Linked DNA regions of Homo sapiens: region 1 is linked to region 2. Evidence: fine-mapped expression QTL. A gene starts in region 2. The other region holds a variant in brackets. All regions are shown on one strand. Distances are from middle to middle. Region 1 overlaps LOC100507053 (a long non-coding RNA gene). Region 2 holds the start of ADH4 (alcohol dehydrogenase 4 (class II), pi polypeptide).

What was found. PIP is the estimated chance that this variant, and not a neighbour inherited with it, causes the effect.
Region 1: its variant is the best candidate, but not a certain one, in a credible set for the expression of ADH4 in lung (TOPMed, PIP 0.77).

The regions. Positions count from the first base shown.
Region 1 is chr4:99,243,476-99,248,856 of GRCh38, reverse strand. The region is part of intron 4 of LOC100507053 (a long non-coding RNA gene); the gene reads right to left. Among named protein-coding and RNA genes, the nearest start is that of ADH6, 27 kb to the right of the region's middle. The variant G/A (reference allele first, on the strand shown) is at 2,902.
Region 2 is chr4:99,142,091-99,147,406 of GRCh38, reverse strand. ADH4 (alcohol dehydrogenase 4 (class II), pi polypeptide) reads left to right here and starts at 3,110. Exons shown (of 9, transcript NM_000670.5): 1 at 3,110-3,202; 2 at 4,627-4,728. The coding sequence starts at 3,185. All of the region lies in intron 2 of LOC100507053 (a long non-coding RNA gene), which reads right to left. RefSeq lists a promoter at 2,816-3,138.

The DNA of each region.
Region 1 (5,381 bases), 100 kb before region 2:
AATTTAACCCAAATAATGTCTTTATCCTTTCCCAAGTAATTCTCAAGGAAACCAAGCAAGTAAAAATTATGAACAAGAGTGTTCATCACAATATAATTTATAATAGCCAAAACAATAGAAATAATTCTATGTCTAGGTAATTACTGATTAAGCAAATCAGAACACATTCAAATGATAGACTGCAGGGGAGAGCTGGGCAAGATGGCCGAATAGGAACAGTTCCCGTCTGCAGCTCCCAGCGAGACAAACACAGAAGGCAGGTGATTTCTGGATTTCCAACTGAGGTACCCAGTTCAACTCATTGGGACTGGTTAGAGAGTGGGTCCAGCCCACAGAAGGCCAGCAGAAGCAGGGTGGGGTGTCACCTCAAGGAGAAGCACAAGGGGTCAGAGAACTCCTTCCCCTAGCCAAGGGAAGCCATGAGGGACTGTGCCATGAGGGACAGTGCTATCCAGCCCAGACATTACGCTTTTCCCATGGTTTTTGCAAACCACAGACCAGAAGATTTTCTCAGGTGCCTACACAACCAGGGCCCTGGGTTTCAAGCACAAAACTGGGTGGCCATTTGGCAGACACCGAGCTAGCTGCAGGAGATTTTTTTTCATAACCCAATGGTGCCTGGAACCCCAGCCAGACAGAACCGTTCACTCCCCTGGAACAAACCGTGGGGTCTGAAACCAGGGAGCCAAGTGGTCTGGCTTAGCAGGTCCCACTCCCACGGAGCCCAGCAAGCTAAGATCCACTGGCTGGAAATTCTTGCTGCCAGGAAAGCAGTCTGAAGTCAACCTGGGACACTCAAGCTTGGTCGGGGGAGGGTCGTCCGCCATTACTGAGGCTTGAGTAGGTGGTTTTTCCCTCACATTGTAAACAAAGCTGCCAGGAAGTTCGGACTGGGCAGAGCCCACTGCACCACAGCACAGCAAAGCCACTGTAGCCAGACTACCTCTATGGGCAGGGCATCTCTGAAAGAAAGGCAGCAGGCCCAGTCAGGGGCTTATAGAAAAAACTCCCATCTCTCTGGGACACAGCAGCTGGGGGGAGGGGCAACTGTGGGAGCAGCTTCAGCAGACTTAAACATTGCTGCCTACTGGCTCTGAAGAGAGCAGCAGATCTCCCAGCACAGTGCTCAAGCTCTGCTAAGGAACAGACTGACTCCTTAAATGGGTCCCTGACCCCCGTGCCTCCTAACTAGGAGACACCTCCCAGCAGGGGCCGACAGACATCTCATACAGGAGAGCTCCAGCTGGCATCTGGTGGGTGTCCTTCTGGGACAAATCTTCCAGAGGAAGGAGCAAGCAGCAATCTTTGCTGTTCTGCAGCCTCCACTGGTGATATCCAGGCAAACAGTGTCTAAAGTGGACCTCCAGCAAACTCCAGCAGACCTGCACCAGAGAGGCCTGACAGAAGGAAAACTAACAAAGAGAAAACAAAAACATCAGCATCAAAAGAAAAGTATGCCCACAGAAAAACCCCATCCAAAGTGCCTCAGCATCAAAGATCAAAGGTACATAAATCCACAAAGCTGAGGGGAAAAAAGCACAAAAATGCTGAAAATTTCAAAAACCAGAATGCCTCTTCTCCTCCAAAGGACCACAACTCCTCACCAGAAAGGGAACAAAACTGGATGGAAAATGAGTTTGATGAATTGAACAGAAGTACACTACAGAAAGTAGGTAATAACAAACGCCTCCAAGCTAAATAAGCATGTTCTGCCCCAAAGAAAGGAAGGTAAGAACCTGGATAAAAGGTTACGGGAACTGCACACTAGAATAACCAGTTTAGAGAAGAACAGAAATGACCTAATAGAGCTGAAAAACACAGCATGAGAACTTCGTGAAGCATACACAAGTATCAATAGCTGAATCAATCAAGCAGAAAAAAGGATATCAGAGATTGAAGATCAACTTAATGAAATAAAGCATGAAGACAAGATTAGAGAAAAAAAAAGAAGGAAAAGGAAATAACAAATCCTCCAAGAAATATGGGACTATGTGAAAAGACCAAACCTATGACAGATTGGTACACCTGAAAGTGAAGGGGAGCATGGAACCACGTTGAAAAACACACTTCAGGATATTATCCAGGAGAACTTCCCCAACCTAGCAAGACTGGCCAACATTCAAATTCAGGAAACACAGAGAACACCACTAAGATACTCCTCGAGAAGAGCAACCCCAAGACACATAATCATCAGACTCTCCAAGGTTGAAATGAAGGAAAAAATGTTAAGGGCAGCCAGAGAGAAAGGTCAGGTTACCCACAAAGGGAAGCCCATCAGACTAACAGCAGATCTCTCTGCAGAAGCCAGAAGAGAGTGGGGGACAATATTCAACATTCTTAAAGAAAACAATTTTCAACCCACAATTTCATATCCAGCCAAAATAAGTTTCATAAGCAAAAGAAAATAAAATCCTTTACAGACAAGAAAATGCTGAGGGGTTTTGTCACCACCAGGCCTGCCTTACGAGAACTCCTGAAGAAAGCACTAAATATAGAAAGGAAAAACTGGTACCAGCCACTGTAAAAACATACCAAAATATAAAGATGAACAAAACTGCATGAACTAATGTGGAAAATAACCAGCTAGAATCATGATGACAGGATCAAACTCACACATAATAATATTAACCTTAAATGTAAATAGGTTAAATGCTCCCAGTTCAAAGACACAGACTGGCAAATTGGATAAAGAGTGAAGACCCATTGGTGTGCTGTATTCAGGAGACCTATCTCATGTGCAAACACAGACATAGGCTCAAAACAAAGGGATGGAGGACAACTTACCAAGCAAATGGAAAGCAAACAAAAAAGGCATGGGTTGCCATCCTAGTCTCCGATAAGACAGACTTTAAAACAAGAAAGATCAAAAAAGACAAAGAAGGCCATTACATAATGGTAAAC[G/A]GATCAATGCAACAAGAAGAGCTAACTATCCTAAATATATATGCACCCAATATAAGAGCACCCAGTTTCATAAAACAAGTTCTTACAAACCTACAAAGAGACTTAGACTCCCACACAATAATATTGGGAGATTTTAACACCTCACTATCAATATTACACAGATCAACAAGACAGAAAATTGACAAGGATATTCAGACTTGAACTCAGCTCTGGACCAAGCAAACCTAATAGACATCTACAGAACTCTCCACCCCAAAACAACAAAATATACGTTTTTCTCAGCTCCTCATAGCACTTATTCTAAAACTGACCACATAATTGGAAGTAAAACACTCCTCAGCAAATGTAAATGAACAGAAATCATAACAGTCTCTCAGATCACAGTGCAATCAAATTAGAGCTCAGGATTAAGAAACTCACTCAGAACTCACAACTACATGGAAACTGAACAACCTGCTCCTGAATGACTGCTGGATAAATAATGAAATTAAGGCAGAAATAAATAAGTTCTTTAAAAACAATGAGAGCAAACACACAATATACCAGAATCTCTGGGATACAGCTAAAGCAGTGTTTAGAGGAAAATTTATAGCACTAAATCCCCACAGCAGAAAGTAGGAAAGATCTAAAATGACACCCTATCATCACAATTAAAAGAACTAGAGAAGCAAGAGCAAAAAAATTCGAAACGTAGCAGAAGACAAGAAATAACTAAGATCAAAGCAGAATTGAAGGAGATAGAGACACCAAAAACCCTTCCAAAAATCAATGAATCCAGGAGTTGGTTTTTTGAAAAGATCAACAAAATAGATAGACCACCAGCCAGACTAATAAAGAAGAAAAGAGAGAAGAATCAATAGACACGATAAAAAATGATAAAGGGAAAATCACCACTGATCCCACAGAAATAGAAACTACCATCAGAGAATATATAAACACCACCACACAAATAAACTAGAAAACCTGGAAGAAATGGATACATTCCTGGATACATACACTCCCTAAACACTAAACCAGGAAGAAGTTGAATCCCTGAATAGACCAATAACAACTTCAGAAATTGAGGCAGGAATTAATACTCTACCAACCAAAAAAAAACCCAGGTCCAGATAGATTCACAGCCTAATTCTACCAGAGGTACAAAGAGAAGCTTATACCATTCCTTCTAAAACTATTCCAAACAATAGAAAAAGAGGGAGTCCTCCATAACTCATCTTATGAGGCCAGCATCATCCTGATACCAAAACCTGGCAGAAACACAACAACAAAAAAAAGAAAATATCAGGCCAATATCCCTGATGAATATCGATGTGAAAATCTTCAATAAAATACTGGCAAACCAAATCCAGCAACACATCAAAAGGCTTATCTACCACAATCAAGTCAGCTTCATCCCTGGGATGCAAGTCTGGTTCAACATACACCAATCAACAAACGTAATCCATCACATAAACAGAACCAATGACAAAAACCACATGATTATCTCAATAGATGCAGAAAAGACTTTCGATAAAATTCAACACCGCTTCATGCTAAAAACACTCAAAAAACTAGATATTAACACAATATATCTCAAAAAATAGGAGATATTTATGACAAACCCACAGCCAATATCATACTGAATGGGCAAAAGCTGGAAGCATTCCCTTTGAAATTCAGCATAGGACAAGGATGCCCTCTCTCACCACTCCTATTTAACATAGTATTGGAAGTTCTGGCCAGGGCAATCAGGCAAGAGAAAGAAATAAAATGTATTCAAATAGGAAGAAAGGAAGTCAAATTGTCTCTGTTTGCAGATGACATGATTGTATATTTAGAAAGCCCCATCATCTCAGCCCAAAACCTCCTTAAGCTGATAAGCAACTTCAGCAAAGTTTCTGGATACAAAATCATTGTGCAAAAATCACAAGCATTCCTATACATCAATATCAGACAAACAAAGAGCCAAATCATGGGTGAACTCCCATTCACAATTGCTACAAACAGAATAAAATACCTATGAATACAACTTAAAGGGGATGTGAAGAACCTCTTCAAGGAGAACTACAAATCACTGCTCAAGGAAATAGGAGAATACACAAACAAATAGAAAAACATTCTGTGCTCATGGATAGGAAGAATCAATATCATGAAAATGGTCATACTGCCCAAAGTAATATATAGATTCAATGCTATTCCCATCAAGCTCCACTGACTTTCTTCACAGAATTAGAAAAACTACCTTAAATTTTATATGGAACCACAAAAGAGTCTGTATAGCCAAGACAATCCTAAGCACAAAGAACAAAGCTGGAGGCATCATGCTACCTGACTTCGAACTATACTACAAGGCTACAGCAACCAAAACAGCATGGTACTGGTACCAAAACAGACATATAGACCAATGGAACAGAAAAGAGACCTCAGAAATAACACCACACATCTACAACCATCTGATCATCAACAAACCTGACAAAAACAAGCAATGGGGAAAGGATTCC
Region 2 (5,316 bases):
TATTTTAAAAATAAGGAGAAAAGAGGCTGGGCACAGTGGCTCACGCCTGTAATCCCAGCACTTTGGGAGGCCGAGGCAGGCAGATCACGAGGTCAGGAGATCAAGGCCATCCTGGCTAACACAAGGTGAAACCCCGTCTCTACTAAAAATACAAAAAAAAAAAAAAAAAAGCTGGGCATGGTGGCGGGCACCTGTAGTCCCAGCTACTCGGGAGGCTGAGGCAGGAGAATGGTGTGAACCCAGGAGGCGCAGCTTGCAATGAGCCGAAATAACACCACTGCACTCCAGCCTGGGTGACAGAGCAAGACTCCATCTCAAAAAAAAAACAAAAAAACAAAAAAAAGGAGTGGTTGGTGCAGAAACCCAATGAGTTCAATTTGAAACATCTTGGGTTTCAAATGTGCTATTTGGGTATTCAAGTTGAGAATGATGGAATATTATAAAATATTATTATTTATGCTAATATAATGGGAGAGAAATTATATTTCTAAAGGTATATATAACATTGGGAATTTTGAAAACATCTAGAAGCCCAAAAATGAAAAGTCACAAAAGGTAAAACCATTCTCATAAGAAGAATCCATGATTTTCTTTTTTTCCATTAGGAGAAGCCCTCACATTCAAATGCCCAGGATTTACTATTCTGAAACCTCTTCTCCCTTCTCCTCTCAAAACAATTCTCAGCAGATCCTTTGATATTTATAGAAAGGAAAAGACCATCTTTACCTTCAAAGAAGTTTATCAAAGTGCAGCACAGAAGGAAAGACCAAGAAAAGACAGATATCAAGCATTCAGAAAAGAGTGTTAATTCCAATTGTGTTTCCAAGGTCATTATTCAATTTGACCAGCATTTAGTAATCACCTAGTATTTTTTCGGGGCTCTGAAGTATACTCTTCAGGATATGAAATGTAAATAAAATACAATCTCTACAGTTAAGGAGGCTACAGGTAGGAAACAGGTTGTCAAAAAAGGCACAAGTAACAGAACATGAGACAAAATGAAGCAAAACTTACTTTGCTTCATTTGCCTATTTATGTATAAGCCTGAAGAGTCATGCAAACACGAGTGCTACAGAGATTCAAAAAGGGAAAAGACCATATCCAAATAGAAAGAGTGGGGATGCAAGATAGGAACCTGGAGACACACCTTAAGGAAATATAAGGGGTTAGTTGGCCACAGTAGATGTTCCAATCAGAGCAAACTAAAAAAAACTCATGCATTGCATTGGGGAAAACAGTTTCAATAGAACAAGGAGATGGAAATCAAACAAGTTGAGTGAAATGTGGTTAGTGAAAAAGTGGAAACGAGTATAAATTACGCTTTCTAAAAGTTTAATAGAACAACTGAAATATTTAAGAGATGGTGGAATACTAGGGGACTATTAAAAGAAATAATGTAGATAATGAAAACACACTGCCAGGGAAAGATAGTAAAAATGTCATTAAATTTCTTAAAACACATGGAACACAGAATACTTGCATGCACGTAATATCAAGCTTCAAGATATGTAAAGTAAAAAAAAGTACTCTCAGAAATTAACAAACTCATAATAATGATGTATTTTTGTTTCTTTTTATTTTTAGTTATTATTTAAAATAATTTTATTGTTATTTATTCATTTTTATTTTTAATTTTAATATGTACAGAAAGAATTGTACATATTTGTGAAGTACCTATGATACTTCAGTACACACATACAACGTGTAATGATAATTAGAGTAATCATAATGATTTCTAAACATCTCTCAGTAGTTAATAGAATAAGCACAACAAAATCAGTATGAGCTGACTCCAGTACAGGACTGGTGCTTATCCTTATTAATAATCAGATCAATACAAATTAAAAACAGAATTAGATATCTTTACACACGACCAGATTAAGAAGATTTTTAAAGTCTGCCAATTCCAAGCATGGGTGAGGATGTGGAGCAACGAGGACTCTCATACACTGCTGCTGGTAGGTGAAGCCATTCTGTGAAATTCCTTGGCCTTGCCTATTAAAGTTGAAGACTTTAATTCCACTCCTAGTCAAAAAATATTTAACAACCAGTACAGAAAGGAAACTCCATTTCTCACAAATGGCCATATACATGTGACTCCAGGGGAGTTCTGACCCACAGCACTGGAGGCCACAGCCACAGGAGGTCAGATGGACACTAGGTATTTATCTACTGGGGTTCCAGGGACTACTCTGTTTTAGGGGGACAGCCAGAGACCCAGAACCATCAGGGCTGGTTGATGGACTCACACATCAGGTGGGACAAAAAGAGTAGCTCCTTAGCAGTGACTAAATAGGGGCCCCCAGGGCTGCAACAGAGTTGAAGGGGAACTTGGGGATTTGGGATAGTGACTTTTTACCAAGCTGAATAAAAATACTTCAATATTTTGATAATTGGCATGGCCTTCATAGTGGGTACTGGCTGAATATCAGCTCTGAATTTTCTTTAAGGCAACTCAAGCATATGTGCAACCAAGTACATGAAAAGAATTTGTATGTAACCACTAATTCATCATAAGCAAAGAGGAAAAAAAACAGCAAAAAGGAAAATGGATGAATAAATTATGTTCAATTCATACACTGGAATATTCTAGAGTAATGAAAATAAGCTACAGCCACAGGCAATGTGAATGATTCTCACATAGAGTAGAGGGGAGAAAAAAGACATGAAACAATACATACACTATGATTCCATTCATAAAAAGGCTTTGCTAGATTAAACTATTGGATAGAGAAGCTTAAATAGGTAGTAAACCACTAAATATGCAAGGAAGTGATTATCAGGGTTGTGAAGGAGAAGAACAGGTAAGTTAAATGGGCGATTCTGAGGAGTAGAAATTTCCTTTACTTCATAATTATTTGTTAATTCATCTTTATATGTTTAATGGGCTTTTCTCTATTATTTTATATTTTTCAATAAAAGAAAAAAGAATTTAAAAAATCTTGGAGCTCACTGGGAGCAATGAGGTTTGCAGCTGAAGTCCAATAGTACAAATGATGTGGTAAGAGGCCGGCAGGGCTGTGAATTACAGCAACAAAGGAGAAAAGGAAGTGATTGGAGAATTAAGCAACATGAATGGTATTTATTCAAAGACAGCTCATTATAGGACACGGAACTCCCTGGGTAGGAGTTTGAAGCTTTCTTAACTCAGAAAGAAACTTCCAACACAGTTTCCCAAAGAAAAATGGGCACCAAGGGCAAAGTAAGCAAGTAAGCTGTATCTTTGTTCAGTTTGTGCTTTTCTGTGTCCTTGTATGTTTGGCTAAAAGGAGCTTCCTTCAGGAACTCAGGAAGCAGTGACTTACAGTTGATCAAAAGGATATGAGTGACCCCTATGCCAGGAATTTATTCTAGGGAAATTAACTGTGGATTGCCAAAATGTTTATTAGAAGGGTGTTCAGTTAATATTAATATTATTTAAATGGCCAAAAGAAGAGAGATTTAAGTAACTGTGCTGTAACCATAAAATATAATATGCATATGTTACAAATAATGTTGCAGGAGAATATGGGAAAATGTTCACAGTATATTAATAGTAGAAAAAGTATATTACAAAATACTATGGACAATGTATCTTATTTGGGGATACTCGAAGAATCTGCATCAAAAGCATAAAGTGGGTGATGAGCTTACAGATGAATCTTATTCTATTTTTTGTCTTTAAAAACTTGATAGGCCTTGGCATTTTGAAACTTCCTGTTAATTAATATATACTTCATTTGAAACAAAATAAATAATATTCAAAAACATAATTCAAAATTATGTAACTATTGAAAAATATACATTAATGTGGTCAAAGACTTTGGGAAAAGTATACCAAATGTAAGCATAGTAGTGTTAGAACAGAAGATTATAGGTTTGTTTCTTTCTACTTTCTTTCAATGTTGCTTATATTTGAAATTAAAAATATAATTTGAGGCTAGAAAAAATTGGGGTTATAGAATCCTAAATATTTAATTTCTGTTCATTCATCTTTACCCAAATTCTTACAATTAGATGAAATTTTTATTTAATTTATATCCTACAGATAAATTTAATAATGATGTAAGCCTCATTTCTCAGACTTTTAATGAATTCTCTGGGGATATTGTTCAAATGCAGATTTTGATTTAGTGGATTTGAGGCAGGGCTTTCATCTCTAACAAATTCCCAAGTGATGTGAATAAATGCTTGTCCGAGGACCACACTTCGAGTTGCAGAGATGTAAAACACATCTATTCTCCAGCAATTATCTGACTCAGGTAATTCAGAGGTGATTTCAAACAGTTCACTCAATAGATTTTTATAGGCCATCTACCTTATTCAAACTCCATAAATCTATTCTCTCTGTTATAGAGGGAAAAACTTGAGACATTATATCAAGGTAAACTTTAATACACCTGTTTTTTTTTCAAGAAATAAAAAATGTAATGACTATAATGTAGAATTTAACTTCTTATTTTTCTTTAAGATCCCTTGTCTTTAAAATAATATCTATAAGATCCAGCTACAAACTCTTTAACTCTTTGTCATGAAATTACAGTATCAATATATTCTAATTTTTTCTCATGATCTCCTCTCTCCTACCCCCAACCCTGTCAAAATCTCTATCTCTATCTCCCTCTTCCTTTTCTTTCTCTCTTTCAGGTTATTAAATGCAAAGCAGCCATCGCCTGGGAAGCAGGCAAGCCCCTTTGCATTGAAGAGGTTGAAGTAGCTCCCCCCAAGGCTCATGAAGTTCGCATTCAGGTAAGTGGAGACTTTCCTTGGGTGGGAACAGACAGGGCCCCAAGTGGAGACCTGGCTTCTGTCAGGTCAATCCTCTGTGCTATGATTCAGAGGCCTTGGAGTTTCTAGTACAGGGAAGCTGTATTTTTAGATTCAGTCAAAAACAGGCATTATCCCAAAAAGGAATAAATCATCCATTATTTTAGTAATTTTCAAATAATGGGCTTAAAATTTAATTGATCTTAACATTAATCATTTACCCTAAGAATCAGACAAAGGAATTCACTTTGGATTTGAATTAGTTAGGTTTTCTTTTTGCTTTCCAATTGCTAATTATTTGAAAGTGTTATTAAAAGGAAGATAGACAATTTGATCGAAAACAAGACAGAAGAAAAAACCTGACGTGCTGCCCTAGGCAGCCGAAGGGTCCTGGGTATCCAGAGGAAGGGACAGGAGTAGGTCACAGGGAGAAGAGAGTGCATGGAATGGAGTGAGATCACTGATGGCAAGTTTGGACAATTTCCCCATTTTTCCCAAGCTGACCAGGCTTATATTTTCCTTGAGGACCCCCACATTAAGAGTCTGTACATGAGAGTGAATGGGACATTC